2 linked regions of the Homo sapiens genome follow. The protein of the gene in region 1 purifies or fractionates together with the protein of each later gene. This does not show direct contact. Each region holds a gene or a part of one and is shown on either strand. Other genes may lie near its edges.

What was found. The genes of interacting proteins can lie anywhere in the genome.
Region 2: the proteins of TUBAL3 (region 1) and KATNAL2 purify together in Homo sapiens (tandem affinity purification; one large-scale study listed by IntAct). This does not show direct contact.

Annotation. Positions count from the first base shown.
Region 1 is NC_000010.11:5,402,575-5,406,328, forward strand, and holds the start of TUBAL3 (tubulin alpha chain-like 3), read right to left. Parts: upstream 2,255-3,754; 5' UTR 2,219-2,254; coding exon 2,216-2,218; intron 1-2,215. UniProt on the Homo sapiens protein: Tubulin is the major constituent of microtubules, a cylinder consisting of laterally associated linear protofilaments composed of alpha- and beta-tubulin heterodimers.
Region 2 is NC_000018.10:47,053,467-47,057,120, reverse strand, and holds part of KATNAL2 (katanin p60 ATPase-containing subunit A-like 2), read right to left. Parts: intron 2,726-3,654; coding exon 2,683-2,725; exon of another isoform or gene 2,671-2,682; intron 1-2,670.

The sequences.
Region 1 (3,754 bases):
GGTCTACACAGGGGTCCCCAACCCCCGGGCCACAGACCAGTACCAGTCTGTGCCCTGTTAGGAACTGGGCTTTACAGAAGGAGGTGAGCAGCAGGTGAGTGAGCATTACTGACTGAGCTCTGCCTCCTGTCGGATCAGCGGCAGCATTAGATTCTCATAGGGGCACTAACCCTATTGTGAACTGCGCATGCAAGGGATCTAGGTTGTGTGCTCCTTATGAGAATCTAACTAATGCCTGACGATCTGAGGTGGAACAGTTTCATCCAGAAACCATCCCCACTGCCGACTCCATGGAAAAATTGTGTCCCACAAAACTGGTTCCTGGTGCCAAAAAGTTGAGGACCACTGGTCTACACAGACCACTAGTCAGAGGAAAGTAAGGAGAGGGCTCTGGTCGGCCACACCCCTGCAATCTGACTTGGACTCTGTTCATGCTCAATGGCATCAAACCTTTGTACTTTGTCTCTGTGATTCACAAGGCATAACAGCCCTCTGCTTCATGACCAATTCAAGTTCACTACCTTAGTAGGGCTTCCATCTTGTTTATTTTCTGTGCAACTATCAGTCTCTCTAATTTAGAAAGCACTTCATTTAGGACAAACTAATATTCCACCTCTCAAGACAGCATATTCTGTTATAAACAGGCTTCGAATACCCCTTATCAGGCTTCAGATAACCTTAATCTTATTCCTCTCCCCTTCTGTCGGACTTAAAGTGCTGCAAATACATCAGCTGCTGTAATCTGATCAAAACTTGGCTCCTTAAATTTAAGTTAACATTTTAAAAGGAGAGGGTGAACGTTCATTGTTTCTACATCATTAAAACCTCTTACTTTGTAAAGTTTACATGTAGATTTCTCTGTCTTCTCCACTGGCTACCACCCAGTCCTGTGTTACAGTGACGAGTAAAATTCAGGTGTACATGTGGTATTTGTTCATAATAGTCACAGTAAAAATAATCACTAACATTAAAAAAAAAAAAGATTGTTCCTCTTCACGTGGTCTGTTCAAGTGACTCAGAAAGCAGAGTGATGCTGTTCTTTTTGAAATCAGCACGAATAGCCTGGACTAACAAGCATCCTTCGTCTTTGAAGGAGCTTAGCTTATAACATAACTCTGTCCAAGGGTGTAGAAGACTATCTTTGCCTTATTCTTCTCTTAGCCTCTCCCTTTTTTTCCAAATTCTCTATGAAAATATTAGTCACACTATAAAGTAGAAGACTATAAAATGTCCACTGAACGTCAACACTGATAAGTCATAGCACATTATTAAACGCTGCTATAAGGATTATTTGAATTACTAGAAAAGCATAACTCTCAGTTAAACTTTCAATTTTGAGGTCTTTGTAGATTGATATGCAGCTGTGAGAAATAACATAGGAAGATCCCTTGCATCCGTTACCCATTTCCCGCAGTGGAAACATCTTGCAAGACCATAATACAAAATCACACCCAGAATGTTGACAGTGATAAGATACAGAACATGCTATTATCACAAGTCTCTCTCATGTTGAAAGGCATAATTTTTAAAAGCAAAACAATTTAAAATTTTTTAAATGTTGGACAGAGAGACCAATGGGGTGAGAAATCAAAGATCAAGAAGCAGTTCGAAATGTTGCTTCCATTGAAGAATTAAAAATTCAAAGATACTGAAAAACTGGCACAGAAAAAAATAAAGGGCAAATGGATCTGAAAAGGTCATCCCAAAACAGAATTATTGTAAGTTATTCTATTCATTGTGGTGCCCAAAGAACTAAACTCAAGGGAGGGCAAAGAAGATGTCTGCGCACTTTACCCTGCCAGGCATTTATGAGGTTAGCCACGGTTACCTAAGTCTGAAGTCCTCAGAAACTCTTAACAGCCTAACGAAAAGTGAAGCAATGAATATCTACAGAAAAATCAGCACTCTGGGCCTAAAACAAAGGTGAAAACTAAAGGAAGGAAAGGTTTTTGCTTCAGTGCTTCAATTAATGGCAGTGAGCTACTGCAAATCAACTGAGCTTTACCTTGAAAGAAGCAACATTACAGAGGAATAGATTACAGCCTGTCCACATCTGCTCCCAACTCATCTACTTGGACATTGAAAGAAACAAATGTTTCTTTACAAATGTCTTCTCTTGCATTACAATTTTATTAAGAATTGTTTGCTGTGGGAAAAGGGCCAAATATGATTAGTAAAATTTCCTACAACAATGCATAGGCGTGTAGTCACTTACCATGCTGATGAGAACGTGCCCTTCCTGCCCTGTAGTAATGACTGAGGAGCCTCCCAGCTGAGCTTTATCACAGGGCCCGGAAATGACTCCACCTGAGGGCTGGAGCTTTCTTCACTTAAAGCAGTATAGCTTCTTTTTAGTTTTTTTAGTTATCTGGTCTCAGAGTAGCTGTGTTGGGCCTGAACAACCCGGGATAAAGTTTGTACACAGCTGCAGATGAACTACTGAGAGCTTATCCAAATCTGCGTCCAACTTATAACTATGTTGAAAAGAACATGTGTCTTTTAAAAATCACCCTTTTGGGTTAAGAATTTATTTAGCATTGGCAGAGAAAAGGAAGGAGTATGAGTAAAATTTTCTGCAACAGCAAAGTAGCTTTTTCTATTGCATGAGTACTATGTGAATATCTTCTTAAATAAATTTAAACAATCCCTGAATACATACAGCAAACCAAGACAGTGTCCTTTTTACATCTGTGTCCTATGCATGCCTCTCAACCACTACCACATCCAAACATATGGGAATTTTCTGTTTTTATTATTATTGTCTTTTGAACTTTTATATTATTATACATAATATATACTTATGTTATTATTTTTTATTAATTGCACTAAGATCAGATCACACATCTTAACTGAGTTCTCTCCTTATATATTTGCTAAAGCTTCCTTTATATTCTACTATATGGTCAATTTTTGAAAATATTCCATGAGTGTTGAAAAGAATGTGCATTCTACATTTGTTGGATGCAATATTTTAGATAGACCGATCATTCAATCAATCAATCTATTAAATCAAATGGATTTATTGTGTAGTCCAAATTTTACGTATCAATTATTTCAAAAGATGTATTAAAAGTTTTCATTATAATTGTGAATTTACCCATTATTTCTTTTTCTGTCAATTTTTCCTTTATACATTTTGAGGCCATGTTATGAAGAGCACATAAATTTTAAATTATTATATTTTCAAAAACTTTAACAATTTTTTATTTTTAAATTACCCTCCTTATATACATTAATTATTTTTACCTTAAAGTTTTTTTTTTTTTTTTTTTGAGATGCAGTCTTGCTCTGTCGTCCAGGTTGGAGTGCAATGGTGCGATCTCAACTCACTGCAACCTCCACCTCCCAGGTTCAAGCGATTCTTCTGCCTCAGCCTCTCAAGTAGCTGGGATTACAGGTGTGTGCCACTATTCCTAGCTAATTTTTTTGTATTTTTGATAGAGACAGGGTTTCACCATGTTGGCCAGGCTGGTCTTGATCTCCTGACCTCGTGATCTGCCCGCCTTGGCCTACCTTAAAGTTTTTATGATCAAATATTAATATTACTACTTTAATACAGTTTTTTGGTTCACATTTGAATGATGTATTTTCCCATCGTTTTACATTCTTAGAAACTTAAAACCTTTCCATATTCTCATATTTTGGATGTGTTCTTTGTATGCATGATATAACTGAATTTTTTTTCTATTTTTGTATTTGAATTGGAGAATTCAGCTCATTACATTTAATATAATAACTAATATAGTTGGGTTTA
Region 2 (3,654 bases), on another chromosome or scaffold:
GGCCAGCAAGACCACACATGTCGATAACACCACCAATGTCCACATGGTGACACATCTGTGAGTGTTGGTCTCACTGGGGAGAGCGTCATGAGAAGTGGACACTAACAGTTCTTGGGGTTTTTTTTTTCTATCTTTAAACTAGGAATAAGAATGTCTTTCTCTACCCTTTTGCTGGCACAAAAATAAAATATCTATGAAATGAAAACCAAGCATTTTACAAATGCAAACTTATATTAATAGTGTTGACTCAAGAGAAGTTATATATGTGTGTGTGGAAGTGTGTGTGTGTGTTTATGTGTTTGTGTGTGTGTGTGTCTGTATTTAAACTTGCCTCACCATCCTTGTGGAGCTGGCAGGAAACAGGGATTCTATATTCCCACTTTGATTTCCCATTGGATGCAACTGATCCCCAAGATCTGCTTTAACAAGACCAAAATACAAGAGCACTAATGTACAAAGCAATGCAATTTATTTTAAATTGGTTCTGAGGATGGTAAAATTCTTCTGAACATGGAACCAAATTCACTCTGCTTTGACTTTAACCATTAGTCCTAGGTGCACCCTGTGGAATTTGGCAGAAAAGGCCCAATCGCCCTTTAGAGGGTGAACTGAAGCCTGTTCCTGCAATGTTCTAAGGAGTGCCCCTCCACCAGCCATCTGTTCAAGCTCAACATCTGCAGTTGCTCTAGTCATTTCTAAAGTTACCTGGTTCCCAGATTGTTCCTCATACTGGTCACCTTCCAGAATAGTGTGACCTCCTATTTTTTGGACACTGTATTTCTATTGATGGGGCTGGGACCACAGTAGCACTCATGTCACACTGTTGGCCCAGGTAAACTGAGATTTCCAGGTCTCTGATTTTGTAATGGAGGAGCTATTTGTTGTAACTCTTGTTAGAGCTTAAACCTTATTTTATTAAATTTCGTCTTGTTACTTTGAACCCATCTCTGGAATTGCCAAGATCTTTTGGGATCCCATTTCTGTCATCCATCACATTAGATAACCTTTCCTCCCTTGGTTCATCAGCAAATCTTTAAGTGGGGATTATAAATCTTTTCCAAGATTAGGAAAAGACACTTTGATTTGCTAATAGCCAGTCTCATGACATGTCTCATTTTAGTAACTATATTTGAGTATAAATTGTCCGCAGAAACACCATTCATTACTTTCCTAGTTATTCCTCCTGATTCTAACCATTTGCTATTCAACTTTTACACTTGCCACATACAAACATCTACTCAGAGAGGAGCTGAGGAGCCCCCACACTGTCAAATGTGCCACGGTGCTCCTTGCCTAAGGGGAACAAAGCACTCTGACACCATTCACTCACAGAGCATTTGCCAGGGAAGAATGCTGAGAAGGTTCCAGAAAAATAGAATCCAAAAGCCTTCCGAAGCTGGCTGCAAACGCTCCTCATGATTTCTATGCACAAGCAGTTATCATTTATTACCCAGAGTCTGACTAACTTTGTGGAAACTATAAATAAAAGAATAACACTTTTGTCAAAGCGATAAAACTCTTCCTGCAGAATAGCACAAAGCAAAGGTAGCCCGAGGCCAAGTATTATAACAAGTAGGATCGTGGAGCGTGCGTGGGCTCCACAGCCATTTTTGCAAGCTGTGCCCACCAGCCCTGTAAAGTGTCCTAGGCCCTTCCTTCTGAGGCTGGAACAAGGGAACTGGAGTCGCAGGGGTGGGAAATGTAGCGGAGGCATAACAGAATCCATACCTCTTGAGGGCCTAATAAGTTGCATGTGATTACAATCTAACTTTTCTTTTTCCAAGAGCATTTTAAGACTTTAAACACTTTGTTGACTGCTTGGATGGCTGTGTCTTTCCATGAGGTTTAGGCCCTACTGTAATAGCAACAGCCCACAGGTTGCGATGCCCCAGAGCTGGCCCTCACTGGCAGCCGGCAGCAGCACCCTTGTTCCCCTGGGTATTTCTGAACAGCTCTGACAGTGGAGGGGTCTATGGGAGTGGGGCGAGAGGAATGCGAAGGACACTGGCAAGAGTAGGGGGCCTTGTGAGAGAATATGTGCACCCAAAAAGGTCCAGAGACAGAGGGGCTCCCATCAGAGGCTACAAGCCCCAAATGAGATTTGGACTTGAGAAGCTGGAGAAAGGAATGCAAGATGAGCTGTGAACAGGAGGGAAAAGCAAGAGAAGAATGGGTCCCCACTGGTCAGGACTGGCGAAGCCAGAAGCCTGAGCTCACACCTCCTGGCTCATTGTTGATCTTCAGACAGGTCAGGACATCTGATCTGGGAGTGCTTGAAATTAACTAAATGATGAAAAGAGGGAAAATATTATATCTTGGGTGCTCACTGTGTGCCAGGAACTCACTATGTGTCCAAAACTTGCTCCATGCTTGTAAATAGCAGAGCCAGGAGTTGAACCTGGGTCTTTTAACCTTTGAGGTTAAGACTTTTCATACCACATGGCCTGGAAAGACAGAGCATCACAGGATATACTTATTTACAGTAAAACCAGGAGAGTAGACGGACATTGGCCCAAATCTGGGGCAGCTGTAATGAGAGAAGTCCTGGGCTGGGCCAGGTCACATGACTGCAGTCAGTATTGCTGGGAGACAGTCACAGAGCTGTGATGGTAAAGCTTCTGGAAAGGGATTCCACAAGCTCCTCGAGCCGAGTCGATTAAGAAGAATTACCATTCACTTTACCTTCTGGTCTTCCCTCTACTTCTTTGCGGTAAATTATTTTCTGCTGTGACAAAACAGACATTGGGAGGGAAAGAAAATAATTTTAAGAGTGACAAAGTGATTTTTTTCAGGTATGTTTCCCCTTTTTGCATTGTTCTTAAAATTTGAGTTTTAACCAATTGGAATCTAGAGACTTTAAGCTATTCTCATCTAGAGAGAACTGAAATTACCAGCGAAGAGAAAGAGGCCTGAGCTTCTCCAGCATCTCCTCACAGAGGAAGATTGCAAAGGGCTCAGATATTAAACATGTCAGAGACTGTGGACCTGGTGGCAACTCCAATATAGGCTAGCTTTACAGCTACCATTTCATTACGCTTTCATGAACTTGACACCATTTTGCTGCATTACATGGGACACCAGGATGATTGCACGAATCTGGCAGGGAACACTGAAGTCATACTCTGCTAGTTAAAATAAAAATAACGTGTCCAATATCATAGGAGAATTTGGGTATCATGCTAGATGGGAACTAGCCATCTGGAAGTGAGATCATGTCACTAACAGTGCTGATCACCCTGTGTTTAGGAGTCTGGGCTGTCTCTTCAAGGCCCACATCTAACCACCTGCCAAGGAAGTCAAGCTCTGAATGCTGCATTGGAAGGGAGCTCAGATAAAATACCTCTTTGACCTTTTCTAGCTCTGAGATCTGGCCCTGGCTATTTTAAATTGATGTTCCTCTTGGTTTCCCGGTCCCTACATGAAATGTTAAAGTCTGTGGCTTAACAAGTGGCTTGTAAACAGGACAATGATCTCCCTTGGTTTATAATTACTTCCCCCACTTACAGACTTCTCAGTCAATGTTACTACAAAGCACAGGGCCCCCACTTTAGATCTTTCCTCCAGCCAGCCTTGTTGACTGCTAACCTATACTGGGTTTTTATATTATATTGATCATTATCTGGATTGATGGCTTTCAAAAGCTTTTCATTATCT